5 separate regions of the Homo sapiens genome follow, and regions 2, 3, 4 and 5 are each linked to region 1. Evidence: fine-mapped expression QTL. A gene starts in region 1. Each other region holds a variant in brackets. All regions are shown on one strand. Distances are from middle to middle.

Region 1 (5,686 bases):
CTCCTTTGCTCTCCTCCCGGCACCGGTCCCTGCCCTCTTCCACACAGAGCCAGGCTGGGGAGAGGGACCCACCCTCTGGCGCGCCTGGCTGCCTGGCTGCGTGGCACAGGCTCCTGGCTCCGGTGCGCTCATTGTCTCCCACTCGGCTCCAACTTGCAGGTGTCCGTGGCCAGCTAGCCTCTGAGGGTGGCAGGATGCACCCGAGCAGCACGGAAGGTGCGGGGCTCGGGGGCCAGCAGCCTGGGTGGCTCTGGCTGGCTCTGGCTGGCTCGGCCGGGAGTGAGGAGAGTGTCTCAGCCACTGCCGCTCTGCCAGGTGCCAGCAATCCACAACAATGTGGAGCCACGTTCGCTGCTCTTGCTTTCTCTGACTTCCTTTCCTAGTTTCTCTTTCTTCTCTGCTGCTCTTTCCCTTGCCTCTTTCTTCCCCCAAGAATAGGGGAAAGGGAAGTTTTGAACATTTTTCCTATGACCGGAAGTTTCTGTGAGGTTCAATCTCCCCCTAATGGGGATTTTTCACCTCTTTTTAACCTCCAAGACACCTCGACTAAGGAATACTTCACCACCCCCGCCCCCCCTCCCCGCGGCTTTTCTTTCCTTAGTCCTAAGGAATGCTTTACCTTGGTATGTCCCAACCAAAGAATGCTTCACTGCCCTGTGGCTTCTTTTTCCTTAGTCCTGACCACCAAGGAAGTATTTTACTGTCTCCCCTGGCATTTCCTTTCTTGGTCTGTGCAGAGTTGCCTGGTCCAGGTGGTATGTGAGGATCTTTTACTCCAGGTCACCAGCCGGTTTCTTTCCACATTGCTGAGAGTCCAGTTTATTTGTCATAACTGGTGGGTCTCGATTCCTTACCCTGAGGCCGCTACAACAAGGCAGTGGGGCGCCTTCCTCATGAGAGAGGACCAGAGACCCACCCCCCCACCCCCGGAGGAGAATGGCTCCCTGTACAGGCCACCGCCATTGTTACAAGTAAAATGTTTATTTAGAAACAGAATGCTTGCTCCTAGGTACTGCAAGGAAAAACCAGCATTTAGACAAAAAGTTTTTTCAGCAAGGCAATTTTACTTTCTGCAGAAAGGGTGCTCCTCACAGATGAAACAATGGTGACAGCACACCCGAACAAAGGAGGGAAGCAGTTTTTATCCCTTATGCAGCTTGTGTCCTGTCTCCATTGGCTGGAGCTGGACCTCACAATTTAAATTAAACCCGACTGGCTAATAACTTAAAACTTTCCTATATAGGGAAAGGCAATAGAGAACAAAGGAAAAGAAGAAGTTGCTTGCAAAAAGACTTAGAAAAGTAATAATATTTCCAAATAAGGAAGGGGCATAGGCTGCAAGCTGGAACGTGCCTGTGAGCATGTCCAGCACAAATATCTTGGTTAAAGTACAAGGACATAGAATATACTTATTCCCTTATATCTAACAGCTACATAGGATAGGGCTTAATGAAGAGTCATTAGCACAGAGCAGAGGAGGCTTGAAGGAAGTTAGTCTTTAAAAGAAACTATTATTTCTAACACTTATGATTTATTCTTTAACAAGAAAGGAAATTTCGAAAAGGAAACTTTTTACTTTCTACAGGCTGATGAGTGCAGCTAATCCTCATTATTATAAGCATCACTATTATCATCACTTGCAAGAGCCATGTGACAATATTTAGATGATTCTGGGTTCTTTTAAAGTGCATACATACTCAGGATTCCTTTGGGAGGATGCAATTTCATTTATATGAAAAACTGTCACTACCACAGTCAGCTCTAATAATATTTGATATCACCTGGTAATAAAGGTTTGTCGGCTGGGTGCGGTGGCTCACGCAGCACTTTGGGAGGCCAAGGCGGGCAGATCACGAGGTCTGGAGTTCGAGACCAGCCTGGCCAGTATGGTGAAACTCCATCTCTACTAAAAACACAAAAATTAGCTGGGCATGGGGGTGGGCACCTGCAGTCCCAGCTACTTGGGAGGCTGGGGCAGAAGAATTGCTTGAACCTGGGAGGCGGAGGTTGCAGTGAGCTGAGATCATGCCACTGCACTCCAGCCAGGGCAACAGAGCGAGACTCCGTCTCAAAAAAAAAAAAAAATAGTAAATAAAAAATAAAGGTTTGTCACCATATACTCAAGAGTACTTCTGTTATTCAAATCTCCTAACTGGGAGTTACAAATATCTCTGACTCTGCTCTTGTAGCTGTCAGAGCATAAAATGCCCTTCCCACTCTTTCCTCACTTCCAGACTCCAAAGCCTCCTCCTCAAAGTTTGGCCCCTCTACTTTGGACTACTGTTTTCTTCCCAGTTACTGCGCACTGACAGTACTTTTGTTCTCTCTTTCGGCAATTCACCATACACTTTCTAGTTTATTTATCTGCATAAAACTTAGTTCTCAACAAGACTATAACTGCCTTATGAACAGGAATCAACAGTTGAGAATCTTCAGAGTCTCCTATAACATCATGTAAGAGCTCACTAAATGTTTGATTTAAATAACTAGGCTTAAGAGTAATAGGCTGGGCATGGTGGCTCATGCCTGTAATCCCAGCTCTTTGGAAGGCCGAGGCGGGAGGATCACGAGGTCAGATCGAGGCCATCCTGGCTAACACGGTGAAACCCGTCTCTTCTAAAAATACGAAAACAAAAAATTAGCAGGGAGTGGTGGCCAGTGCCTGTAGTCCCAACTACTCGGGAGGCTGAGGCAGGAGAACGGTGTGAACCCAGGAGGCGGAGCTTGCAGTAAGCCAAGATCTCAACAGTGCTAAATGCATACATGGATTATCTTACTAAATTTTCATAACTCTATAGAGGTAAGTGCTATCATTATTTTCTCCATCATAGAGGAAGAAAGTGAAGCTCAGAATAACTTGCTCAAGGTCATACAGGCCTGGGCAAACCCAGGGCCTGAATCCAGCAAAGCTCTTAACTACCTCAGAACACTGCACAGTTCGAGCCCTGCAATACTACAGTCTATGAATGATTTCGATTTCACTAAGTTAGAAATTTGAATTTCAACAGAGACATTTTAGCTAAAAGGTAAAATTTTAAAGAGGATGAATTAAGAGAATTTCCCACAGACATCTTTATAATAAAATGAGGAGAAAAGCCTCCCATTTCCTATTTATGAAAGTGATATTAAGGTGTGTGTCACAATTTCATCAAGAAGTGGCTTATGACAATACAGCTTTGGTTTAGGTATTAAAATAGGACTCTTTTCTGCCCATAGGAGGACATGGAAATGAAGGATAGATGTGATAAATGTCAATTCAGAGCTCTGCAAAATGCCAGACTCAATTCTTGTTTTAAAATATCAGAGCCAGGGCTCTTGTTTCACCCTTGATTCTTCACACAAAACACCACCATCCTCTGACCTCTTCACACAGAGCAAGCTTTACCCCACTACCTAAAGGGGAGTGCTGATCCACATGGTCTCCCCATCCACGCTAGAAATTGATCCCAAACACCAACCGCTGCATAGACGTCGGCGACTTTGGTCTGCACCCCCCGAACTTGGTGATACCTCATCAAGCCAAACCCCTCCCCAACATCCAAAATGCCCAGACCAGCATCCGAAAGCTGGTCTCCTATACAAAGCAGAATCCCTGCCTACAAAGCAGTTTCCCACCTCCGACTCCTCCCCACGGCGAACAGCCCTTCTGGATCCAACCAACCCACCAACCCCAATAGGGCCCAGCACCCAGAGGGTCCACAATCCAGAGAAGGAGCTACAAGCCCTGTACTTGCAAGCCTCGAACCCCCAACTCCAACTGACCTCCCCTCTGCCAGAGCAAGACCACGAGTACCCGCCGAGAGCGGACCTGGCTGGCTACACAAAGCCAGGCGCCCGACCAGAGGGATCCTCCGGGACGTCCTCCGCCACCGGGGCGTCCCCGCCCAGCCCCGCCCGGCGCCCGGCGCTCACCAGCTCTCCTCCCCCTCCTCCTAGCCTGACAGACGCTCCAGGTCGTCTAGCAAGCCGCCCTCCCCCGCCGCCAGCAAGAAGGTGGCGTCTCGCAGCTCCTCGTTATTCGTCCGCCTCGGGTCCATCCGGCCCCGCCGCCCGACTTTGCGCTGAGACCCAAGGGGAAGCCCCGAGGGGACCCCGCGCCGTAGGAGGGAGTGGAGGAGCCGGCGAACCGCGATGGAGCCGGGGCCCAGCACAGCGCGAGCGGCTCCTCGGCTGTTCGTGCTGCTTCCCCAGCTTCTTCACCGGCACCTGCAGCTTCCGCACCTCCTGGTCCGCGTTCACGTTAGAGTTAACGTCCTCCATCCCGGCCCCGCTGCCTCCGCCGCCCGCGGCCCTCTCGCTCTCGCAGCAACAAGGGAAGAGCCGGAGGAAAGAGGCGTCCACGCCGCTCACTCCAGCCGAGGCCCCCGCATATAGCAGGGCCAGGCCCCGTCGCCAGGGTTCCCCCAGCGCGGGTCCCGAAGCACCGCTGGCCACAGATGAACCGCCTCCTCAGCGCAGGTCCGGGATTCGGGGAGGCAGCGCCAATATCCGGTCTCTGCAGCCATCTTCCCTCCGTCCCTCCGCCCACCGAGGGTCGGCCCTGTAGGTGACCTCAGAGCGTCGGGGATGGGCGTGGCCCCGTCGGGCGCTAAGAAGACCTAGCGCAGAGAGGACCGCCGAGCTCCCGACGGGGCGGGGCCAGGTGTGTGAGGGGCGGGGATTGGACCCGGAGGGGCGTGTCTGGACTGCCGGCGGAAGTGGAACGCGGCCTGACCTGCGACGGAAAGCCACTGCAAGCCCGGAGGCGAACAGAAGGCATTCCGCGAGCCGGGCTGAGTTGGTGAACACGGTCCTCGTTCACCCCGCCTATTGGTCTGGGCGTGTGGGGTATTCTCCACCCACTTATACGGCGTGTGGGACCGACGGGCCCGTCCTGCCCGGCTCCGGTCCGGATCTCGAGTAGGCGCTCAATGGGATTCGGGGAGACGTAGTTTACTTTGTTCAGCAAATATTTAACCGATGCCTATTTTAATGGGAGATTGTTTCCGCTGGCGGGAGCCTCAGAGACCGCCTGTGTCCTTTAAGAAACCCGAATTTCAGACAGTTAAGAGAGGTCTAAGGTCAAAATAATAATCATAATTTCTTCTTACTGGCCAGATACTATGCTAAGCCCTTTTTAATTTTATTATTATTATATTTTGTCACCGAGGCTGGAGTGCAATGGCCCGATCTTGGCTCTGCAACCTCCGCCTCCCGGTTTAAAGCGATTCTCCTGCCTCAGCCTCCCGAGTAACTGGGATTACAGGCGGGCGCCACCACGCCTCGCTGATTTTTGTATTTTAGTAGAGACGGGGTTTCGCCATTTTGGCCAGGCTGGTCTCGACCCTGACCTCAGGGTGATCCGCTCACCTCAGCCACTCAAAAGTGCTGGGATTACTGGCGTCAGCCACCGCGCGCCCGGTCGTGCTAATCACTTTGAAAGGCATTATCTCATCGGTTAAAACATAGTTTTCCGGACTTAAAAGTTTACAGCACACTGGCGCAGAAGATGGAAAACCGCTGCTTGCCTTTCTCCGTTTATTGACTCACATTCTGCTCTTTGGATCATTTTCTTCGGAAAAAGTTTTCCAAAGTGTGTCTTGTGTATTAAAAGTTGTGTATTAAAAGTATTTGAACACGCTGACAGATACTGAAGAATGCAGAAAATTGTATGAGTGTGAAAATCTGCCTTTACGATGTGTACTAG
Region 2 (6,372 bases), 200 kb after region 1:
ATATAGAATCACTAATACGCAATGTGGTACTGTTACAGCAACCTCTGTCAGTAGTCTGTCTGAATCTTTACCAGTTCAATGCACAGATGGCAGTGTGCCAGAAGCCCAGTCAGCATTAGACTCTACATCTTCATCTATGCAGCCCAGGTAAGATGTACTCTCTGAATTCTAATGAGAATGCTAATAAAAACTAAAGAGTATATTCTGTGTTTGATTAATAAGGAAAACTACGTAAAGCTACTTTTAGATTAACTGGCCTAAAATTTTATCGTCTGATTATAACTAGTTAGAAAAAGCGATTTCTTGCTTTTACCTTGAGGGATCGGGGGTTATCGTTTAAGTCTTAGATTTCTTTTTCAGGCATCTTTTTCTTTCTCATAATATATCCTGACCTACTCCTGAAGTCCTTTGGAAGCATGTTAAGTGAAATGTTAGTCTTATTCTGCAAGTATTACTACCGTGTATTAAAAAAATACAGTCTTGTCACACATTATCTTTGTTTAATATCATGATGTAGTACTCATATTTGTTTATATTGTAATGTGTATATATATATTTTTTAACTCTGAAGTCACATCATTTAGAAGCCTGCATACAGCAATACTGGTTTCATTTTTATTCTGCTTTTAGGAACCAATATATTAAGTTCCTACACTGGGGTTCCTTTTTTCCAGTTCATGATAAGATATGTTCAGTTTTGCTATGCCAGAATATCATTTACAGCTTTGTCTTAGGGTTCTTTAAGCATGTCTTTATCATGCTAGTTTTCATTTAGTGAATTCATGTGGTACTTGAAATACACAAAGGACATATACACTGTTGCTTTGTTTCCAAGGCAGTAAAATTCTGGTCCAAATTAGTCTCTAGTTTTAAAGCTCTATGATTATGTTTAAGTTATTAAAAAAAAGTATGTCTGTGTTCTCATCTTAATTATCTACTTAGATATGTTGAACTCTTACTGTGTCACATTAGTTAATATTCATGTGTAGAGATCACCTTTTAAAATGAAATATTTTGCTTTTCTAGCCCTGTATCAAATCAGTCACTTTTATCAGAATCTGTAGCATCTTCTCAATTGGACAGTACATCTGTGGACAAAGCAGTACCTGAAACAGAAGATGTGCAGGGTTTGTATATGAACTAGCATGTATTTTGTTATTTGAGTATTATAGGCCAGACACTATCCTAGGTGCATGTATAAAAAAATTGCCAGCTTAAAATACATGTTTTTCTGTTTTCCCTATGAACACAATACTTTATATCTTTAAGTATTTAATTAACATGTTGGGGAGCCATTTCACACTTACATGTAATTTTATCATCAGCATAAATGTTGCAAATTCAAAATTTGTTTAGTTTGGAAAATATAATTAAATGAATGTGTGGCAGTGTTACACTGTTCTCTTTTACTATTTTGGCCGTTTCAGTCTATATACTACTCTGTAAGAAAACTGGGGCTGCTGGTTTGAGGGGCATCTCTTTCTTTTGTGTTTTGACTCATTATCTGAGAGACTGTGTCCATCGTGCCTGGCAGTTCTCCTTTTTTCTTCCCCATGTGTGCAATAGTCACATTCAGTTGCTCGTATTCACAGCATGGTATCTATCGTGTCTTGCCCATGCTCTTCATATCCCCATTATGAAGCTCAAAGTGATCTAGGAAGACTTGAAAATTTGTATGAAGGCTTTCGTAGTAGGGAGAGAGAATGCGGAGTAGGCCATTTTGGAGGCTATTAAATAATCTCTGCTTAATTAGTTGTATTCTAGCAGTGTGTGGAAATAACATGGTAACAAGGAAGGATCTCTGGAAAGATAAGCCTAATGAAGAGCAGTGTGTCATTCTGCCTGTGAGATGATTTACCAGTGAAACTTCATTGCACATGGTGTTCACATGATGGTAACAGATACATCTGCCAATCCTAGTTTAAGATGGCTAAATTTTTAATTTAGGCCAGGCACTGTGGCTTGTGCCTATAATCCCTACCTACTTGAGAGGCTAAGGCAGGAGGATCGCTTGAGTCTGGGAGTTTGAGACTAGCCTGGACAACAAAAAATTAGCCAGGTGAGGCGGCACATACCTGTAGTCACAACTACTCAGGAAGCTGACGTGGGAGGATTGCTTGAGCCCAGGAATTCAGGCTGCGGTGAGCTATGATCGTGCCACTGCACTCCAGCCTGGGTGGGCACCAGAGCAATTCCCCCACACCCGGTCTCAAGAATTAAATAAACAAATTTAAATAAGCTAGGTAGTTCCTCTTGCTTTTTTTTCATACCCAGCAAATACTTGAACCAGTTTGCTTGTTTGTGTAGATTTTGCCGTAACAAAAGAATATTCTGTGTGGTCAACGTAAATATTCTAGTCCCATCTAGCATATTGTGATAAATTCTTAAATGTTTTAAGTGAATAATTCTTATTTCTTAGTTACATCAAAAAATTTAAGGAAGGGCAGAAATGAGGAATCTTTAAAGAAATAAGGAAAAGACTGGGCGCGGTGGCTCACGCCTGTAATCCCAGCACTTTGGGAGGCTGAAGCGGGTGGATCACGAGGTCAGGAGATCGAGACCATCCTGGCTAACACGGTGAAACCCTGTCTCTACTAAAAATACAAAAAATTAGCTGGGCGTGGTGGCGGGCATCTGTAGTCCTAGCTACTGGGGAGGCTGAGGCAGGAGAATGGCATGAACCTGGGAGGCGGAGCTTGCGGTGAGCCGAGATGGCGCCACTGCACTCCAGCCTGGGCAACAGAGCGAGACTCCGTCTCAAAAAAAAAAAAAATTTAGAATGTTGGCAGTGAAAAAAATGTATAAAGCTTAAGAATACAATAGTATTTACAGAAGTTTGACAAAGAATAAAGGTCATAGATTGGTGAACTATCATAACACATAGGAAGTGTTTTTATACCATTTATTTATAAAAGTGTTTTTATTTCCATTTGTGGTGTATGGAAAACAATACCGTTTTCTCCACTTAGCCCTGAGTATATCACTTCAAAAGGTGGTCCTGATGCCATATTAGGAGAAATTGTATAGGCCCCATTTTTCATACATGATTTGAATGACTTTTAGGTTAAACCAGTATTAACTTGTAAGTACCTTTAAAAAACTTAGCATTCGTAATATCAGCAGCAAATCTTTGATAAATTAGGTATAAGTTTCATCTCAGTTTTAAGAGAGGAGGGTTAGGTTCCAGTATGTAAAATCTCTTAACAACCTAGTTTTTAAAAAAAATTTAACATATTATTGAATTAAGAATACCCTTTTTATTATAAACATACACAAATATAAACATGTATGTTTGTATATATGTACGTGTATATTCTGTATGTGCACACACTCATACACTTACATGCAATTACGATTTCCCTATTGATCAAATTCAAATAACTTTTTTTCCATTTATTTAATAGATGGATGAAAAGAGACAGAAAAAGTCTCTTTGAGTCAGTCATATGGTCATAAAAGCTGGAACTGGAATCCAGGGACCTAACTCATAGAGGCCAGTATTCTTATGATTAGACAGTTGTGGAGCTTGTTGGACTAGGATGTGGATATGTGTATTCCTGTTAACACATACATCTCCCTCAGTTCTCAGGGTAGGATCAACTCGTTTAGCAAACTACCCAGGTATCAGTTTTCTTCTTCCTCACTCCATATGCTTCCCTCAAGGGAAATTTATATAGATAGGAAA[ACCATC/A]CCAAATGGAAGAAGGTATATGAGTAGCAGCTATATGTCTAAGCCAGAAGTTTGTAACATTTTGTAATTGGAACATTCAGAACAACTTTTTCTCTACATGTATTCTGCTTATAATTAGGATATGCTGCCACCAGGTTGGTGGTACTGCTTTCATATTGGCCACATGGCTCTGAAGAATTTTTATGTTTCATTGAGAATTTAGCATATTGAAGCATGTTTCTTAGTTGTTCTTTTTGATTTAAAAATATAGCAGTACCTTACTTACATAGTGTCACTCAGGAGTATAAGTCAAATTTCCAGTTCACAAATGCTAGCTTTTAAAAGAACTACTTTAAGCATTTTGGTACACTCTAAAACTGTTGAAGAATATGCTTAAATTTGGTCAACCTCTTAGTCCCTCAGATCTTGGGTCATAGTAGAAAAATACTGAATTTGGATTCATAAGTTCTATTTTCCTATCTTGGTATGCCTGCTTAACTTCACTGAGCCTTACTTTCATTACTCTTAAAAGAGAATAAGAATGTCCCTCTTACAGGGTATTAAAAGATACTGAGATAATGGAGGTTGGATGAGCTTTGTAAGCTGCAGAAGATATTCTTTATATTGCCCAAGTGATTTGGGAGTTGTAGGAGGCCTAGAGTAAGAGAGAATTTTGAAGCTTTCCAACACTCGAATGATGTCATATGTTAAGATGGTAAGGTCTACATCACTGAAGCATTCTAGGAAAGATGAGTTGATGTTAGAGACCATATAGAGAGAGGAATGCTGTGCTTAGTGACAGGATGAACTAGAATTCTCAGGCTCTTTCCTACTCTGAGGGTTTCTGACTTTATACAAAGTTGAATTGTCAAATCATTGGTTCAGAAAAATCAGAGGGGGACAGTCTCTTTGGACTGATTTAGGAAAGCTGTATGGGTTTTAAAAATCAGGCATTTCTTCTGATTCTAAAGAATGAGTGAGAATAGCCAAAGGTATCTTGAAAAATAACAAAGTTGGAGGACTAACAATTCCTGGCTTCAAAATTGAGTACAAGCTACAGTAATCAAGACTGTGTTGTACCGGCATGAGGATAGTCATGAAGGTAAGTGGAATAAAAAATTGAGAGTCCAGAAATAAACTCTTATTATATTTATGGGCCATTGACTTTCAACAATGGTGCCAAAATCATTTGATGGGAAAAGAGTAATCTTTTAAACAAATGATGCAGGAACAACTTCATATCCACATTCGAAAGAATGAATTGGACTCCTATGTCATACCATATGCAAAAATTCACCCGAAATACATCAAAGACCTAAAACGAATATAAGAGAACTATAAAACTCTTAAAGCAGGTATACATTTTTGTGATCTTGGTTTAGGCAGTGGTTTCTTAGATATGACACCTTAACCACAAGCAGCCAAAGAAATTATAGATAAATTGAGCTACATCAAAATAAAGATTTTTGCTTAAAAGAGTGGAAAAACAGCCAGGTGCAGTGACTTATGCCTGTAATCCCAGCACTTTGGGAGGCCAAGGTGGGCAGATCACTTGAGCTCAAGAGTTTGAAACCAGCCTGGGCAACATGGCAAAACCCCATCTGTACAAAAAATAGCCGAGTGTGGTGGCGCACGCTTGTAGTCCCAGCTACTGGGTAGGGAGGCTGAGGTGGGAGGATCACTTGAACTTGGGATGTTGAGGCTGCAGTGAGCCATTAACGCACCACTGCACTTCAGCCTGGGTCACAGAATGAGACCCTCTCTCAAAAAATAAAAGAGTGGAAAACCAGCCTACAGAATGAGAGAAAAAATACTTTGAAATCATATATGTGATAAGGATATATAAATAATTACAATTCAACAATAGAAAACCCATTTTAAAAATAAGCAAAGGATTTGAGTGGACATTTCTCCAGAAAAGATATACAAGTTTCCAATAAACACATGAAAAGATGCTCAACAGGGCCGGGTGCGGTGGTTCACATCTGTAATCCCAGCACTTTGGGAGGCTGAGGCGGGCGGATCACCTTAAGTCAGGAGTTGGAGACCAGCTTGGCCAACATGGTGAAACCCCATCTCTACTAAAAATATGAAACTTAGCTGGCTGTGATGTCATGCGCCTGTAGTCTCAGATACTCGTGAGGCTGAGGCAGAGGAGAATTGCTTGAACTTGGGAGGTGGAGGTTGCAGTGAGCTGAGATTGTGCCACTGCACTCCAGCCTGGGCAAAAGGGCAAAACTCCATCTCAAAAAAAAAAAAAAAAAAAAAAAAAACCATGCTCAACTTCATTAGATATGAGGGAAATGGAAGTCATGGGACACCACTTCGTATCCACTAGGATGGCTCTAATCAATAACAAAGTATTGTCAAGGATGTAGAAAAATTGGAGCCCTCCTGCCTTGGTGGGAGTGTAATATGGTGCCAGATACTCTGGAAAACAATCTCCTAGCTCCACAAAAAATTAAAAAGAATTGTCATATGACCCAGCATTTTTCTCCTGATTGCCAGGAGAATTGAAAACATACGTCCACACAAAAACGTGTACACAAGTGTTCGTAGCAGTATTATCTATAATAAAAAATAGAAACTACTGAGATGGCTGTAAATAGATCATTGGATAAAAAAAAATGTGGTATATCCGTACAGTAGAATATTCAGTCACAAAGAGGAAGGAAATTCTGATACATGCCACAGTATGAGTGA
Region 3 (6,000 bases), 24 kb before region 1:
CTTTATTCATGTCTGTTTCCTCTTCTAGGCTCTCTGCTCCTTTAGAGCAACAATCATATCTTTTTCATCTCCACAACCCAGTATATAGCCAAGTGTGCACTACATAGGTGTTCAACATATGTGAATGAATTAGCTAAATTTTAAACAACTAGATAGTAAGGACAAGAGTCTATATCCTTTACATCTACTAAAACACCCAGCAATGCTTCCTCATAATAGCTAAAATAATTCTGTTTGAACGAACGAATTAACATCTGTATAGATTCCCTCATACACACCTACATAGATGAAGAGAGGGGTGAAATGAGCATATATGCTTTACTGCTTTAACCCATAGGCACCTTGAATTTGAGTAAATAACGGATAATAGAATAGTGAAGGGTAATTAAGAAAGCCTGATGGTATAACTAATTCCAAGGAACATCAAGTTTCCAAATATCTGGTGTCTCTGAAGCATGATGCTGGGAAGACAGATCATCAGTTTGACTTACAACAGAATTACAAATACGTACTTATTCAGGGGACATTAAATTTTTCTTCCTCTGGTGTCTAACAAAAATGAGTCCCCAAAAACTCTTTAGAACATGCCTTCACAACAGGATATGACTGCCATTTTATTGATAAGAAAACTGACATTACATAGACTAAAAATACATAGCAGTGCAGTTGGTGAAAGTAATGAAACAGAGGTCTGCTAACCAACAAACACGGACCCTCACTTATTCCTCTCATTTCTCTCTTCTGTTTCCTACGTTCTTGGGAAGCCTGGATATGATAGCCAAGTCTTCCTTTCGTTCACTCAAGAAAAAGCATTTAATGTTGACCAACTCTGAGACAGGAAAAGCCTAGGCCCTGGAGCTACTGAGACACAGCCTTAGCCCTCCATATGCTTAGTGAAGTCCAGTCAACCTCTGAGTTCTGCCCTTTGGCATCTCCACACCTTTTTTGGTGTTCCCTCGTCTAAAGCACCTGCATCTTTCTCTGGCCATTTTACTAATATAACCGGAGTCTTACTCGTAGCTCATTAACTTTAGGCCTCACTGAGGGAACCTGGGCACTCAGGTGTTCACCCATCTCCTCTACCACAACTTTCTGTTCTCACCGTGCTCTCACCACAGCACCGTCATCCCCACGGAGGGTTTTCGAGCACCAAAAGAGCCACCCATGCAAACAAACTCCCCTCCCAGAGATAAATCTGTCAACCCCTGCCGTCCTCTCGCTCTTTAGCCCCACAACTTTCACTACCGGGCCCTCTCCCCGCCATAGTGCCAAGAGCGTCCAGACCACGACTAGGGGGCGTGCGCGCGCCGGGAGGGGAAACGTGCGCGCGCCGGGGGGTGGGGGGGCGCCTAGCCCAGCGCCAGCACGGACCATGCACAGATCAGCAATCGCTGGCCGCCAGGCCTTCGGAGGGTCTGTCCGCCGCGGCTTCCGCTACGGGCGGCCTCGCACCTTCTGGCTCAGTACGCGGGACTGGCGTAGCCGCTCCTCGGCACTCATCGCCCGCAGACGCTGCTTCAGCTCTCCCCGCAGGCTCCGCTTGGCGCTGCTCACCGCTGCCGCCGCCATCTCACGCCCAAGCCGAGTCCAGTCCCGCCCTCGGCGCCCTGGGCGCCCTCGGGTTCGGTCTCCGCCCCTGGCCGCTCCCAGGTGGATCCGCGGCCTAGGGGCGGGTCGGGGCTCGGGGAAGCGCCCCCACCCCGCTTCCGGGACGCGGGCCCGCGGCGCGCCGCGCGCTTACCTCGCCTCTGGCCCTTGGGACCCAGCCCTCGTGCGGTCCCCGTGGTCCGGCTCGCCCTCCCCGGTTAGGGGAGCGGTGGCGAGGCGCCGTCGCTGCCCTGCCGCCTGACCTCCCTGAGCCTGGGCCCTCACCGGGACCGCGGAGGCGGCAGCGCCACTGGCGGGGATGGTAAAGATGGCCGGCAGTACCCACGGTGCCTGGCATCTCTTGTACTGTTCAGTAGTGGGACTTCAGGGGCCAGAAAAGAAGGGCAAGGCAGGACATGTAGCGAAATCGTCACGAGTCGCTTAACTACAGGGATAGGTCTGACAGATGCCCCGATTTCCTTCTTGTGCAAACATCAGAGTGTAGTTACACAAAGTTACTACACACCTATGCTACACACCTGTACAGCGTATTTTGTACCGAATACTGTAGGCAATTGTAAGCACCGTGATACTTGTGTATCTAAACACAGAAAAGGTAATGTGTTGGTTGGCTACCACATCAGTAGGTATTAGGAATTTTTCAGCTCCATTATAATCTTAAGGGACCACAGTGGTTGATGGAAATGTCCTTATGTGATGAATGTATAGATGATACATAATCGGGAACACTGCTAAAGCAATAACTGTAGTGTAAAAGCCAAATTTTGCGGGTTTCTAGTGTGAATGTATTCCAGGTAATAGTGCCCACATAGGTACTTCCTGTTATAACCATCAGTGACTGTTCATTCCCACCACTCAGCTCTGATTAAAACACAAAAATGAATTAAAACTAAAAGCAGTTGGGGGGTGGGTGAGGCACTTGCAGGAAGAGGTAAAAGAAACTGTTAAGTCTTAAACTGCTCCCAGTAGACAGGCGCCTCAGATGGCATAGACGGTTGCCTCTCAGATGTGACTTCCTAAGAAAACCAGAGCTGTCTCTGCCAAAAATACGTCCCTACTGACCGCCCCAGTGTCTTAATCCCCACCGTTAAGAATCACACCTCCTAGGTAAAGCATTAATTAAGTGCCCGGTGAGAATGCACATGGCTTGAGAGGGGAGTTCTGGCTTCTTTATGGAATCTATCAACAGCTTCCAGGGAAAGCTAATGCAAGTCCCAGGGGGACTGTGTTGTAAGAAAAAGGGAAGGCCAGGCAGGTACAGCGTATACATAGTGCAATTAGATTTGCTGACCTAAAAGTTAGAACACGAGGTCTAACAAACTACGTACTTTTCTAATCTGTTCATTTTTACCAAAAAATAAAAATTAAAATTAACACTAGCTCCACGTTGAATCATTTACCAATTTTCTTTGTTCAGAATATCCCAGAGTATCCTGCATATCAGGTTGCCATATCCATCAACCCCAAATGGCAAGCCAGAGAGAGAAGGCTGGGGAGGAGGCATCAATGGAAACTCTTAAGCAGCCAGGGGCACTGGAAACTGCAGAAAGCATGGGAAGGAAGGAGGGAAGAGGGAAGCCGACCTGAGTCTGCTTCTAGCCTGAGTCCGCTTCTCAGTCTAGTCTGCAGTCTAGCCTAGTGACACAGAAAAGGACTTTTGGGGTAATGGCACACCTTAAAAGTCTGCCTGGGGCAGAAAAGACACCGCCTTCCTGGTCATCATCCCATAATTAATTGCCTGGATCCTGTGTTGAGCTTTTACCCTTTGGCTGAATTTCCAGCCAGACTCCAAAACTGAAGACAAAAATGGCATATAGAGAAAAATACATACAATTTATTCATTAAATAGGGACAAAATTTCTGTAACTCTGGAAGGTCAAGTTACATCATCAAAGTTGTTTATTTAAAAGTAGAAGTATGTGTTGGCAATCGTTTTCGTAAGAGTCAGAAAAATTAGGCCGGTTTCAC[A/G]ATATGGAGTGTCCTTTCTGGTCAACAGTATTGCTTCAGGACAGAAGAGCATTTCACAGATCTTTCCTGTAACTTCTAGAAAAGTCATCCAGCCAGATTTAGGCTCAAGCTTCTTTACAAAGCCATTTTCCTATGAGAGAATAAATTTAACATTTTAAAAATCATTGGAGATTAAGTATGCTGGAATAAAAAGCAAAAATATTTTCATTTAAATAATGCAAATAATCTTCTATCCCTCTAAAGGAGCATTGTGTAACAGAAACACAGTGTGGCCTACATCTGTAATTTTAATTTTTGGTAGCCACATTTTAAAAAGTACAAAAATAGGAAAAATTAATTTTTAAGATATATTTAGTGATAATGATTTCTGTATGTAATCAATGTCAAATCACTAATGAGATAGTTTTTTTCATAACAAACCTTCAAAATCTCATGAGTATTTAGTACTTACAGCGTATCTTAATTCAGACTAGCCACATTTTACTACCATAGTGAACAGCAAGCACAGCTCTAGAGGATAAAAAGTCTTTTTGTTCTTGTTCTTGTTTAATTGTCCAACATTGATTTCAATGCACTTATATTTGTAATATGAATTCTATTATACTGTAAACTGCATTGTATTGAAACTCATGAGAACTCACAGTAAATCCAAATTAAACCAATACCTTTGAAGCTATGAAAAGGTTGATGGTTTCTTTTATAATCTACTCTCTTTGTGATCGGACATAGTTTTAAAAATGTAGGATAACCCAATTAACTGGACATTTTATTTAATTTACAATCTATAATCATAGAATCCTCACTGAAAAGTCCCTCTGAGATCATCTAGCCTAATGCTCTCTCTTAACAAATGAGGAAAGTGAGGCCCACAAAAAAAATCAGTTATCTAAGATTAGCCAAACCCTTGGTGCCTGGACCTGGATTAGAATGCAAATACCCTACTTCTTTCCACTCCATACATTTCCAAACAAGTGCCAAAATATTCGAAAATTGTTAAAATAATTTTTTCGAATGTTCATCTAGCAAACATTTGTGGCTGCATCTTACAGGTTCCAGAACCTGGGGTTACAAATGCCTGCAAGTAGCTCAGAGCAAAGTGTAACTAATATTGAAACGTAAACCAAGCATAACCCTTTGATAGTTGGGAGAGATTCGAGAGCTCTGCGGTGCCTTGGAATCATTTTATGAACATCACTGGCAAAGCAGATGAATACCACCAGCCAGGGGGATTTCATTTGAAAGACTTAGAAAGCCATTTTCTGCCTACGTAAGTGTGCGTCGTGCTCTGAGACATGCTGTCATGCCTTGACAGAGGAAGGAAACTGCCCCTCTTCTTCCTCTTTCCCTTCTGCCAGTACATACTCATAGATTACACTCTAGGGAGGTATCCACTTCATTACGCCCCTTCCTAAACACCATATTTCGCAAGTATGATGAGACCCTCTGAAATGACTTTTATTATAACGATAATCATTGTCTATTATCATTGATCAGTTAACATGTCATATACATCAACGTCTAAAGAAAGGACAGTGAACAAAGAAAATATTGATAAATTCAGCCAGATGAAGATTAAAAATTTTTTTAACTATGAAAAACTAAAAAGAACAATAAACTAGGAAAATATTTACATATACCATGAAAGTGTTCATTCAAATGTGAGAGAAAATTCTCAGGCCCTTAATAGTTTAAAAAGGAGAGACCATTAAACAGAGAAATATAAATCATTCACAAGTATATGAGAAAAACATTAATAGCAGTTAAAGAAATGTACATTTTAACAAAGTCTTATTTTTTTTAGACCTATTAAAGTGGCTTTATTTGATGCCTATTAAACCCTCAAAATTATTAATAGTACCACCCACACTGATAAGGTTGCTATGATATTGTTCTATTGATATAATACTTTCGAAAAGAAAATATGTTTTCCAGTATGCTAGAATATCGTAATTATACACACATCTTATGAACCAGTTACTCCACTGTTAGAAATTTATCATGAGGCAGTCTTCTAAAATATTGGAAGGTAGGGGGCACCAGAAAAGCATACCTATGCTTCACTACTGAACCATTATATCTAAAAGGGGAAAACCAGGCTGGGCGAAGTGGCTCAGAACTATAAACCCAGCACTTTGGGAGGCTGAGGTGGGGAGATCACTTGAGGTCAGGAGTTCGAGACCAGCCTGGCCAATGTGGTGAAACTCTGTCTCTACTAAAAATTCAAAAATTAGCTGGGTGTGGTGGTACATGCCTGTAATCCCAGCTACTGAGGAGGCTGAGGCAGGAGAATTGCTTGAACCTGGGAGGTGAAGGTTGCAGTGAGCCAAGATCAAGCCACTGCACTACAGCCTGGATGACAGAGTGAGACTCTGTCTCAAAAAATAAATAAATAAATAAAAGGGGGAAAATCAAAACCAAATTGTC
Region 4 (6,372 bases), 470 kb before region 1:
TCCAAAAGCTTCTCATGCCTCAGCCTCCCGAGTAGCTGGGATTACAGGTGCATGCCACCATGCCCAGCTAACTTTTTGTATTTTTAGTAGAGACAGGGTTTCACCATGTTGGCCAGGCTGGTCTTGAACTCCTGACCTCAAATGATCCACCCACCTCAGCCTCCCAAAGCTCTGGGATTACAGGTGTGAGCCACTGCCCCCGGCCAGTTTCATGTCTTTTATCTTTGTATCTCTTTGTGCTGCATTCAGCTAAATTCCCTTAGACCTATCTTCCAGTTCATAGACTTTCTCTTTATTTAGATCTAATATGCTATTTAATGCCACTGTGTTTTGTATTTTAATGATTCTTTTTCTATTAGTATACTTCTTTTCCAGATCTGTATGTACTTTTTTCATAGTGTCTTCTTTTATTTGGATTTTCTATTAATTTTATGCCTTTACTTATTTTAAGTATATTTGTATCTTCTTTAAGATTGTGGATTCATTTATTTTAGGTTCTTGAAGTTCTAATCCTGCTGGTGATTTTGTGTCTGCTGATTCTTACTCATTGAGTAGTATTTTCTCTTGTGTGTTGTAATTTTTAAAAATATAATTCAACCTTAAGGTGGATTCTTTTCTCTGTGGTGCTCCTATGCACCTTTGATTGTCTTGAGTACTTTTGCTCTTGTTTCTGCTTGCAGCCATGGACATTAGCAGCATGGAACTGATTTTTTACATTAATTTCTTAGCTCAAGAGTTCTTGCACACCGTGACAACATAAATTTGGGCCCCAAAATATTTAAGACATTGGCCTTGTTTTCCATTTCTAAGGGGTAATTTTTTACTTTATTTAACCCAGAGCCCAGGCAGAGGCTGACAAGTGTCCTTGTTTACTGTGCACCAGATTTTTTTCATCCTTTCACATAAAGCTAGAGAATAGTCCTTCAAGGGTCCCAGCTTTATGCAGACATCTGTGTTTCTACTCTCCATCTCATGGAAGGCCTATCCTAATCTACCTTAGAAGGACCATCCCCTTTACTCTTAGGGCAGCCACAGTGCCAGCTCTCCTGTCTACCTCTGTGATTTTTCAATCTCTTCTCTATTTCTGGAATCTGGGCATTTAGCTTGCTCTCGCAAGTTTAGTTATGCCCGTTAAGAAAAAAATTTGCATCTTATCCAGCATTTTGAGGTGTTCATAATCAGAGTTTTTCACATTCTCTAAGCTTACTTTCTTGCCAGATCTGGAAATTGCTTCATAATCACTTGACTTCTTAACCAAGGGCTTTGCACTAGGGTTGAGCTCTGCAGGTATACGTCTTGAGAAACAGAAGTGTAACCCCTTCCCAACTCCTTGCTGCCCTCTTTAGCAATTTTTTTGTGGAAGATGGCTATCTCTGGGAGAGAAAGTGTTCCCCCTTAAGTTTGAAATTTTATTAGAGGTGACACAAACAATGTAGAAATTCTTAATCACAAATTTTATATTCCTAAATTGATAGCTTCCTTTTATAGTTTCACCAAATCACAGTAGCAACCACCATCCTAAAACCAGAAGCAAGACAAAATTCAAAACAAGCAGGCCAACACCGACGCAGGAATTACATGAATACTGCAGATGAATTCTCTTGCAGTGTGCTTTCGTGAGCGTGAAATGAGAACATTGTGGCTGTTATATCTCTGCACTTTATTTCAGTTTTTGAAAGATCAATATATTTTGGCGTATTGGAAAGGTTTGATAAGAATACTTTATAACTGAGTTTTGCTAATCCAGTTCAAGGTATATGTCATTCATTTTGGGGCTGTTGGTAGCAGAAGGGAAGATTAGATTTCTAATGGAGTTGTTGGAAATGAAATTCAGAGAGCTTGTCTTTTGTCCAAAGATTCAAGCAGCAATACTACAAACTATATCCCTAAATCATCTCTCTCTCTTTTTGCTCTGCTTTGATTAACATTAGATGCCAAGAGTGTGAGCAGTTGAATATGCGTAAGATTGTGAAAGGGTGGGTATTCATTTTAGCTCTGTAGACTGGACAGCAACAACATTTATCATGCCCAGAATGTGGCATGAGAAATGAACAAGGTGCCACAGGGTAATGGGAAAAAAAATCAGGCATCTGGTTCTGGCCTTTCCCAAACTACAGACTATTACCTAGTGGAAATACCTATGGGTTAGGAATTAGAGGAGCCTGGAGTTCTTCCCTTCGCTGTATACGGGTAGGAGGTTTTGAAAGGGGCTAAGACAATATGGATCCCCATCAGCGTATCCTGTAGGTTGCAGTGCTCATCTTAACCTCAGGCTTGCTCTGCTCTAACACCCACTTTGTCAGTTCCCAGCTCTCATTTACTACAGAATTGAGTTCAGACTCCCAGCCCAGAGTTTAGTGTACGCCCTATCTTAGTATGTTTGTGTTGCTATAACAGAATACATGAGACTAGGTAATTTATAAGGAACAGAAATTTACTTCTCATAGCTCTGGAGGCCGGGAAGTCCAAGATCAAGGTGCCAGTTTCTGATGTATCTGGTGGGGGCATTTTTGCTGCATCTTCACATAACAAAAGGGCAAAAGGGCAAGCTAGCAGAATGCTGCACAAAGCCTCATTTTATAAGGGCATGAAACCCATTCATTAGGGAGGAGCCCTTATGGCCTAATCACAATCACCTGGGATGGTTTTTAAAACCTATTGAGACCTGGCCTCCCCTA[C/A]CCTAGACCAGTTAAATCAGAATTCCTGGGAAGGGGTCTTAAAGGTCCTACTTCTTAAAACTATCACACTGGCAACACCTGAATCTTGAAGGGACACAATCAAACCATAGCACTCCCTATCTAAATTGTTTGTCCAGCTCCACCTCCTTCTCTCCATCCCTACCAGACATACAGACTCTTCTCTGCTGCCCTGTACCGTCATGCCTTCTGCCCTCTGCCTAGAGTACCTACCCTGTCCCTTTTCTCCAGACCATCAAACACTCCCCTCCTCTTTAGTCTTTGCGGCCACTGCAGATGGCACCTTCTCTGTGAAGCCAGCTTTACCTTTTCCCCATGGCTGGAATTCATCTCCCCCTTAATCGGGTTCCCAGCTCCATGTTTATGCTCCTCTGGCACTTGACAGTCAGAACTGGCATTCTTGCAGACATTTATGAAAACAGCCTAGGGGTCAGGAACCCTGGGTGTTGGGGACAGTTCTGCCACTAGCTCTACATGTGCCTTTGAAAAGTCATGTTACTCTCTGGACCCCAGTTTTCTTGACCATAAAATGAAGGGTTAGGCTGGAGTTCACTGTGGTCCCATCCAGCCCGCTCTAAAGAGTGTTTTCTTCCCTTTACCTTTCTCAGCTGTGCCTAGCCCAGTCTCATGCACCTTCTGGGTGCTCAGAAACAAGTTTTAGTGGGGGCTGGACACCTACAGAATCTTCAAGGACACATAAGGCAGACGCACAAAGTAAGAGTCACATAGTGAGGAGGGTGTGCTGTAGTTTGGATTGGCGGGCGACGAGAGCACCCCCATTAATTCTGAGTGAGCAATTTCAACCTCTGGCTTTCAGAACTTTTCATGGAATCAGTTTTCTGAACTGTCTTCCTATTAAAAAAAAAAAAAAGCTGAATAATGAACCCCACAGCCAATTTGTTATTCCCCTCTGAGGTCATGTGCAGCCTAGAGAGAGGCAGTAAATCATTAGTCTACTGAAGGTCCATGGGAGCATGTGGTTGAGGATGAAGCTTTTTATAATGAGAAACTAAAAGTCTTTAAATAAGTTGAAAATGTAAAACTTGAGAGGCCAGAATCCCGCTTTAGGCAGGCGTCTCTTGCTCTTTGTACAGAATAGAGTCATTTTTCAAAAATACTCCTTTTTTATAACCTGCAGAGGGTGCTGTGAGGCATGAAGCCACTGAGACTGCTAGAATTCCCATTGCTACAGCTGTTCCATGAGTGACAGCTGTTATTTGTTGAATGCCTGTCACATGGGAAGCTCTTTATTATTAAGTGCTTTACATATGCTTGTTAATTAAACCCATTGTTACAGATGAAAAAACTGAGGCAGGGTGTGGGAGCTGTAAGTAACCTATCCAACGTCACATAGTGGGCAGGACTGGAGTCTGAGCCCAGGTCTGTGGGCCCCTGTCGCTCCTCTCTACCATTAGGCTTCAATGCCTTTCACAAACCTCATCCCTCCGACTTATTAAATGGGGCTTCTTGGTCCCAAAATCTGGAGGCCCATGGTTCAGAAATTTGGGGTGGCTTTTAAAACTCCTAAAGACCTGGACCCCTCCTAGGAATTCTGATTTAACTGGTCTAGGGTAGGGGAGGCCAGGTCTCAATGTTTTAAAACCATCCCAGGTGAATCTTACCTGGTTGAAAACTCCTGCGTGATAAGCGCTTTAGCCAAGGCACAGGCGGAGGGCTGTTGAGCACCACGGAGGGAACAGAGGAGACTCTGGGACCTGGCGAGGGACTGGGGCAGAAGGGCTGTTCCAGGAGCCGGCGTGGGTGAGCAGGACTGCGGGAGGATGTGGGCAGCCGAGGCAGCAGGCCTCCAAGCAGACGGGTCTGCGGGAGACACAGGGGAGGGGAGGCCTGGGCTACGGTGTTGGCTTGGGCAGTCAGTTGGGCCCGATGGGGGCCTGATGTGCTGCAGGCAATCCCCAGTCTGGCCTCATGATTTTCGGATCTCTGCTGCTCACCGGCTCCTCCTCCTGCCAGCTTCCCTGCCGCGCTGGGCATGGCTGTTCCTCAGCAAGGAGCTCTGAAGCCAGGTGGGATGGAAGTCCTGTGATTGGCCTCTCAGAGTCTTTGCGGAGCTTTTCCACATGGGGGTGGGGGTGACAGGGTGCTGCAGTGGCTGTGTTTGCAGGTCTTGTTGGCAGGCAATGTGCGGCATCATGGGGTCAGCTTCCCAAACGCCAGAGAGGGGTGGATTTGTTGGCTGCTTAGCCCCCAAAATATGCATGGAGATGTGCTGGGATGTTAAGAAAGTTTAAACCCTGAGGACAGAGCTAAGAGACACTTAGGAGAGAACAGAGCTAAGAGACACCTAGGAGAGAAAGAGTGTGGAGATTGTGAGTGAGCCTGTGTATGTGGTGTATACGTGTTTGTGAATGTGTGTGTGTGCAGAGGTGTGAATGTGTTTGTGGATGTGTGGGAGCTTGAGTACTTGTGTGAATTGTGTGTACACATGGGTGTGTGGAAGTGCGACAGCGTATGTGTGTGCAGCTGTGTATGAGTGTAGGTCTGTGTGAGTGTGTGTAGGTGAATGTGTGTGTGCTTGAGAGTGTGTATGAATGTGTTGTGTGTATGTGCATGAGCGTGAGTCTGTGTGTTTAGGTCTGTGTGAGTGTGAAGCTGGGAAGCTGTGCAAGTGTCTGGATGTGTGTGTCTGGATGAGTGTGACTGAAGCTGTGTGAGTGTGTCTGGGTATATGTATGTCCCTGAGTCTGCATGACTGAAGCTGTGCAAGTGTGAAGCTGTATGAGTGTGTGGGTGAGTCTGTGTGAGTGTGTGTGGGTGTGAGTCTGGGTGTGAAGCTGTGTGTGGATTTGAGTCTGAGTGTGAAGCTATATGAATGTATGGGTATGACTGGGTGAGTGTGTGGGTGTGTGTGGGTGAGTCTGTGTGTGTGAGTGTATGGGTGAGTCTGTGTAGGTGTGAGTCTGGGTTAGTCTGGGTGTCTGGATGAGTCTGTGTGTGTGTGGGTGTGTGTCTGGGTGAGTGTGGGTGTGGGTATGAGTCTGGGTGTGTGTGTGTGGGTGTCTGGATGAGTGTGTGGGTGTGGGTGAGTCTGTGTGGGTGTGTGGGGGGGGTGTGTGGGTGAGTGAAGCTGTGTGCGTGTCTGTGTCTAGGTGAGTCTAAGTGTGAAGCTCTGTGGGTGTGAAGCTGTCAGTGTGTCTGCATGTGAGTGTATGGGTGAGTCTGTGTGAGTGTGAAGCTGTGTGAGTGTGTGTAGGTGTGTCTGGGTGAATCTGAGTGAAGCTATGTGAATGTGTCTGCGTGTGAGTGTATGGGTGAGTCTGTGTGAATGTGAAGCTGCCCTGGGACATATGTGCATGCACATATGTCCCAGGGCAGTTTGCTCAGCCCCCAGAGATTCCAGGCGGCTATTTCTGCCTTGCTCTGACCAGATCCGGCTTCAGACTGTGATGCATTATGCTCTGAGTGGAGTTTCTCTAGCCTCCTTTTCCTCATTTCTCTTGAATAGCTGGGGAATGTCCGTGCCCCCCTCTCTGAGCTGTTGCTTAAAATCATGTAAGGCCTCAGCACATAGTAGGTGGTCAGTCCACAGTGGCTCTTCCACCCCTCATTCACTTCTGTCAGTAGGCGGTGGATGCTTGTCCTCCTGGCATGCGATTGAGCCTAGTGCCCCTTCAACAGCGTCAGAAGACCTGGGTTGGAGTCCACTTGGGCCCCT
Region 5 (6,372 bases), 82 kb after region 1:
ATCACTACACATCCCAGAAGAACATCTAAAATCAAAAAGTCTGACAATACCAAGTGTTGGTGAGGAGTGGAGCAATGGGAACTCTCTTACATTGCTTTTGGAGTGTAAATTTGGAAAAGGTTTGGCAGTATCTACAAATAAATCAATATCCTGGCTTTGCAATCCCATTCTTAGTATATACCCAAGAGAATCTGTGCTATGTGCATCAAAAGACACATACAAGAATGTTCACAGCAATTTATTTGTAATACCCCCAAACTGAAACAACCCAAATATCCAACAACAAGGAGAAAAGATGAACAGAAGTTAGAATAGTGATGGCCTTAAGGATGGAGTTGTAATTGATTGGGAAACCTTATGGTTTGCTGTAAATATCCAACTTGCTCTGAATAGAGGTTCTCTGGGTATAGATGTACGTAAAAATCTACTGAGTTGCATACTCAAGCTTCATACAACGTATGCACTTTCTGCATGTTATATTTCTATTTTAAATATTTTTAAAAGCTTCTACTAGATACTATAAAAGAACATATTCATGACGAATATTTCTTAAATAGGAAATTAAGGCCCGGCGCAGTGACTCACACCTGTAATCCCAAAAGTTTGGGAGGCCAAGGTGGGTGGATCACGAGGTCAGGAGATCGAGACCATCCTGGCTAACATGGTGAAACCCCGTCTCTACTAAAAATACAAAAAAATTAGCCGGCCATGGTGGCTGGCACCTGTAGTCCCAACTACTCAGGAGGCTGAGGCAGGAGAATGGTGTGAACCTAGGAGACGGAGCTTGCAGTGAGCCGAGATTCTGCCACTGCACTCGAGCCTGGGCGACAAAGCAAGACTCCGTCTCAAAAAAAAAAAAAAAAAAAAAAAAAAAAAGGACATTAAAGCACTAATAGTAAGGAAAGGACTGATAGATTTCACCATGTTAACAATTAAAAACTTCCCTTTATCAAAAGATGACGTTAAGAGAATGACAAGCCTCTGAGTGGTGGGGGTATTTGCAATACTTGTAACAGACAAAGCATTATATCCATATTATATAAAGAGCTGACTCTATGTACATGTTTGTGTATGTGTGTGTATACCTACAGAATAAGGAAAGAAAAATACAGAGCACACAGTAAATAAATGAGTAAAAGACATGAATAAGCACTTTGCAATAGAGGATACTAAATGGCCAATAAATATATGAAAACGTGCTCAATCTCAATAATCAACAGGGAAATACAAATAAAAACCATTTACGGGCTGGGCACGGTGGCTTACGCCTGTAATCTCAGCAGTTTGGAAGGCCCAGGCAGGTGGATCATTTGAGGTCGGGAGTTCGAGACCAGCCTGGCCAACATGATGAAACCCCGTCGTGGTAGTGGGCACCTGTAATCCCAGCTACTTGGGAGGGTGAGGCAGGAGAATTGCTTGAACCCAGGAGACAGAGGTTGCAGTGAACCGAGATCACGCCACTGCACTCCAGCCTGGGCAGGAGAGCAAAACTCTATCTCAAACAAACAAGCAAAACTATTTACACCCACCAAAATGACTAAAATTTAAAAGACCATGTTACCAAGTGTTGGGACAGATATAGAGTAGCTGCTTCTCTCGTATACGGCTGAAGTGTAAATTGGTACAATCACTACTTTGCTGTATTTATTAAAGTTGGTGATATGCACACTCTAAGATCAGAAATTCCATCTCAGGTTTGTACCTAGCAGAAATACATGCATGTATAGTGCAGGAGACATGCAAAAAAAATGCTGATAGCAGCATTACTCAGAAACATCAAAAACTAGAAATAATCCAAATTTTCAAAAGAAAAAAAAAAGCAGGAGCTGAATATGGTGGCGCATGCCTGTCATCCCAGCTACTTAGGAGGCTGAGGCAGGAGAACTGCTTGAGTCCAGGAGTTTGAGTCCACCCTGGGCAACATGGTGAGATCATGTCTCTTAAAAAAAAAAAAAAAAAAAAAAAAGACAGGAAAGTGGTTTCCTTAAAAGTCAGTGTTGGAAATAAGAGCTCGGAGTCGCAGGAAAAACAAGCACTCAAACAATAGGTTTCTCAGCAAAGCAAGTTTACTTCTACAGAAGGCTGCCGCTCATGCTTCTGGCCGCTGCGAGCACAACTAACAAAGGAGAGGAGTTTTTATCCCTAACATAGTCCCTATTCCTGTGTCCTTCCCCTATTGGCTAGGGTTGGACTGCACAACCTAAGCTAACCCCAGTTGGCTAAGACTTAAACTTTTCAGCCGGGCATGGTGGCTCACGCCTGTAATCCCAGCACTTTGGGAAGCCCAGGTGGGCGGATCACGAGGTCAGGAGATCAAGACCATCCTGGCCAACATGGTGAAACCCCGTCTCTACTAAAAATACAAAAAAATTAGCCGGGCGTGGTGGCCCGCGCCTGTGGTCCCAGATACTCGGGAGTCTGAGGCAGGAGAATTGCTTGAACCCCTGGAGACGGAGGCTGCAGTGAGCTGAGACTGCACCACTGCACTCCAGCCTGGCGACAGAGCGAGATTCCATCTCAAAAAAAAAAAACAAAAAAAGACATACTTTTCCAATTAGGGTAAACGTGCGATTCGCAAGGGAGGGTGGGGGATAGGAGTGGTCCCTCTGCTACAGCACAAGGCGTGTTCGGACATGTCTGGGCAAGTCCGGGCACAACAAGAGCGGGAGGGCTGCTCACAGGCTAGAAACAAGAAAGTACAAGGAGGTGAGGCTCCGAACCAAGGACAAGGACATTACACAATTAAACCCTTTGAAGACGAATTCACCATCTCTGGCAGTCAGAATGATAGAGGGAGACAATTGCAGATAGAACAAGGCCTTTGGGAGAACGGGGAGTTGAAGTGGAGGAGGTGATGCTGGAGTACTGGGAATGTTCTATTTCACGATGAGTGTGAATTACAGTTTATGGAACTGTGAGTTTATGTTTGATAACACTTCTCCAAGTAAGTGTTACATTTTGCAATATTAAAAAAAAAAAAGAAACTTTAAAATTAACAGGGAAGGCCGGGCGCAGTGGCTCAGGCCTGTAATCCTAGCACTTTGGGAGGCTGAGGCGGGTGGCTCACCTGGGGTCAGGAGTTTGAGACCAGCCTGACCAACACGATGAAACCCCGTCTTTACTAAAAACACAAAAAATTAGCCGGGCACGGTGGCAAGTGCCTATAATCCCAGCTACTCGGGAGGCTGAGGCAGAAGAATTGCTTGAACCTGGGAGGTGGTGGTTGCAGTGAGCCAAGATCCCGCCACTGTACTCCAGTCTGGGCAACAAGAGCGAAACTCCATTTCAAAACAAAAAAAATTACAGGTAAAAATCAGTAACATGTAGGACTTGACCAGATAGAGAAGGGAAGGAAGGTTTTTATAGACAGGGCAGAGAGCACGAGGGAGATACAGGGCCTGGGGCGTACCAAGCTAGTGGATTGGCGGAAGTATGGAAGGCTGTCTGAAGGTCCCACAACAAGGAAGCGTGCAGTGGGAGACAAAACCAGGACAATTCAAGGCCAGGCTATGAAGGACTGTGAATAGAACCACCACACATGACTGAAATTTGTGCCCTGCATCCAGGTACCAGCCAAGAGGGCAAAGGTATTCACCCTGGCATGTGCTGGGTCTGCTGGAGGAAGAGAAATTCTTTTCTAATTGCACAAAACTTCACCTCATGGAGAAGATAGTATCTCCTTATATGTTGTTTTTTCTGTAATTTGAATGTTTAAAAATATATATTTTTTATTTATATATGTATATACTATATATGTATATATAGTATATTATATATTCCGTTAATTTTAAAGTTTCTTTTTTTAATA[C/T]GTATATAATATAGTATATATTATTATATATAATTATATAATATAGTATATATTATTATATATAATTATATATATTATAAAATATATTATATATAATTATATATTTATATATTATATAATATATAATATATTATATAATATATTTCTATATTTATATATTATATATTATATATTATATATTATATATAATTTTATATATTATATTTATAATTATATATATATAATATATATATATATAATATATATATAAAATATTATATATTATATAATATATAATATATATTATATTATATAATATATAATATATATTATATTATATAATATATAATATATATTATATATGTGCATATATTTTATATACTATATATTATATATTTTATATATAACATTATTATATACTATATAATATATTTTATATATAACAAATATATTATATAGTATATAATATATTATATATTTTATATATTATATAGTATATAATATGTTATATATTTTATATATTATATAGTATATAATATATTATATATTTTATATATTATATAGTATATAATATATTATATATTTTATATAGTATATAATATATTATATATTTTATAGTATATAATATACATTTTATAGTATATAATATATTATATATTTTATAGTATATAGTATATAATATATTATATATTATATTATATATTATATAGTATATAATATATTATATATTATATTATATATTATATAGTATATAATATATTATATATTATATTATATATTATATAGTATATAATATATTATATATTATATTATATATTATATAGTATATAATACATGGTATATTATATAGTATATAATACATGGTATATTATATAGTATATAATACATGGTATATTATATAGTATATAATACATGGTATATTATATAGTATATAATACATGGTATATTATATAGTATATAATACATGGTATATTATATAGTATATAATATAATATATGGTATATTATATAGTGTATAATATATGGTATATTATATAGTGTATAATATATGGTATATACCATATAGTATAATATATGGTATATACCATATAGTATAATATATGGTATATAACATATAGTACAATATATGGTATATAACATATAGTATATTATATAGTATAGTATATATGTGTATATATAAGGTATTTTATATAATATATAATATATTTTATATATTATATAATATATAACATAGGTTATATATAATATATTATATGTGTTATTCTATATATATATTATATAATAGAGAGAGAGAGAGAGAGAGAGAGAGAGAGAGAGGAAGGATGTGGGACTTTATCCTGGAGGCACTGCTGAATGATAATATGCATCAGGCCTCCTCCCAGCATCAGACTCAAGTCCCTGTAAGGCTTCTTCCCTACCCAGATTAGAGGGCTCTGGAAGAGGAGCCACTAGTAATTCTTCGTCTTCTTTGGCATACCCTCCAGCAGCCTCGGAGCACTCTGTGCCTGTGAGGTTGCTGAAACATTGCAGACTGACTGGCTCCGGGCTTCCATCCATCACCATTACTGGGGCTGGGCCAACACTGGCATTTTAAAGGATTCAGCAATTAAGGTCATTAGTGGAATAAGGTGATCTCACAGGTGGAGCAGGCCTCAGCTGCTTCAAAATACAAAAAGATCAGACTGTCTCCTGAGATTTTTCACAGGCAGGCTTTGTTGATTATGGTGTTGAAAGGGGCAGTAAAGTCTTAACACTGGGTGCCAAAGGCCTGTGGCAGTCCAGGTGGGTTGTTTCCTCAATTCCTCCTTACACTCCACACCCTTGCATCTCTTTTTTTTCTTTCTTTCTCTTTTTTTTTGAGATGGAGTCTCGCTCTATAGCCCAGGCTGGAGTGCAGTGGTGTGATCTCGGCTCACTGCAACCTCTGCCTCCTGGATTCAAGCAGTTCTCCTGCCCCAGCCTCCCGAGTAACTGGGACTACAAGCACGTACCAACACACCTGGCTAATTTTGTACTTTTAGTAGAGTCGGGGTTTCACCATGTTGTCCAGGCTGGTCTCAATCTCCTGACCTCAGGTGATCCACTTGCCTCAGTCTCCCAAAATGATGGGATTACAGGCGTGAGCCACGGCGCCTGGCCCATCCTGGCATCTCAATTCTTCACAGCAAAATTCTTGAATTGGCTGAATATCTTGGAAAACGTCCTCTCACCTTCATCAGTGAGTAAGAACACTAATATAAACAAACATCATTCAAATTAGCTAGAAGGTGAGCTAATGAGGACGAGTACTGGGCAGTAAGTGGGAAGTCCTATTGTGTTGACCATTTGTCCTGGAGCACAGCAGCACCTGTTGGGCTCCCTGCTGGCCTCCTTTCCTGTGCCTGTGGTTCTCTGACTCTCTTCTACAGACTCTGTAACTCCCATGTCCCAAGCTTCAAGACTGGGAGAATTAGGGAGCTCCAGAAGCTTTGAGGGGCTTCAGCAACAAGGCAGTCTGGCTGCTCGTCCCTGTGTCACAGAGACCTGAGTCTCTGTCCTGAAAACCCATCTGGCCCCTAGCCTTCTTAGAACCAGTGTACTCAGCCT

Which allele goes with the higher level. Alleles are on the strand shown, and positions count from the first base shown. SD is a standard deviation of normalised expression in the study named. Not every link is listed here.
With allele C in place of A in region 4, the expression in neutrophils of the gene that starts at base 3,541 in region 1 is lower (moderate effect, 0.45 SD a copy in BLUEPRINT).
For the expression in regulatory T cells of the gene that starts at base 3,541 in region 1, allele T in region 5 goes with a lower level than allele C (large effect, 1.3 SD a copy in Bossini-Castillo 2019).

The links. PIP is the estimated chance that this variant, and not a neighbour inherited with it, causes the effect.
Region 2: its variant is fine-mapped to the expression of ST20-AS1 in skeletal muscle (GTEx, PIP 0.97).
Region 3: its variant is fine-mapped to the expression of ST20-AS1 in whole blood (TOPMed, PIP above 0.99).
Region 4: its variant is fine-mapped to the expression of ST20-AS1 in neutrophils (BLUEPRINT, PIP 0.95).
Region 5: its variant is fine-mapped to the expression of ST20-AS1 in regulatory T cells (Bossini-Castillo 2019, PIP 0.95).

Annotation. Positions count from the first base shown.
Region 1 is chr15:79,919,231-79,924,916 of GRCh38, forward strand. It overlaps ST20-AS1 (ST20 antisense RNA 1), which reads left to right and starts at 3,541. Exons shown (of 1, transcript NR_028330.1): 1 at 3,541-5,624. It overlaps ST20-MTHFS (ST20-MTHFS readthrough), which reads right to left and starts at 3,862. Exons shown (of 4, transcript NM_001199760.2): 1 at 3,809-3,862. ST20 (suppressor of tumorigenicity 20) reads right to left here and starts at 4,522. Exons shown (of 3, transcript NR_037653.2): 1 at 4,222-4,522. RefSeq lists silencers at 3,680-3,789, 3,810-3,879, 3,890-3,939, 4,560-4,709 and enhancers at 4,240-4,419, 4,850-4,899, 5,101-5,686.
Region 2 is chr15:80,121,674-80,128,045 of GRCh38, forward strand. ZFAND6 (zinc finger AN1-type containing 6) reads left to right here. Exons shown (of 7, transcript NM_019006.4): 4 at 39-147; 5 at 1,027-1,127. Among named protein-coding and RNA genes, the nearest start is that of FAH, 28 kb to the right of the region's middle. The variant ACCATC/A (reference allele first, on the strand shown) is at 3,686.
Region 3 is chr15:79,895,420-79,901,419 of GRCh38, forward strand. All of the region lies in intron 2 of ST20-MTHFS (ST20-MTHFS readthrough), which reads right to left. MTHFS (methenyltetrahydrofolate synthetase) reads right to left here and starts at 1,595. Exons shown (of 3, transcript NM_006441.4): 1 at 1,453-1,595. The coding sequence starts at 1,569. ST20 (suppressor of tumorigenicity 20) reads right to left here. Exons shown (of 3, transcript NR_037653.2): 3 at 3,423-3,706. RefSeq lists a silencer at 1,604-1,903 and an enhancer at 2,044-2,093. The variant A/G (reference allele first, on the strand shown) is at 3,577.
Region 4 is chr15:79,446,983-79,453,354 of GRCh38, forward strand. The region is part of intron 1 of MINAR1 (membrane integral NOTCH2 associated receptor 1); the gene reads left to right. Among named protein-coding and RNA genes, the nearest start is that of MINAR1, 18 kb to the left of the region's middle. The variant C/A (reference allele first, on the strand shown) is at 2,679.
Region 5 is chr15:80,000,714-80,007,085 of GRCh38, forward strand. No RefSeq gene overlaps it. Among named protein-coding and RNA genes, the nearest start is that of BCL2A1, 33 kb to the left of the region's middle. RefSeq lists enhancers at 894-1,666, 1,667-2,438, 2,202-3,401, 2,439-3,211, 3,212-3,982. The variant C/T (reference allele first, on the strand shown) is at 3,809.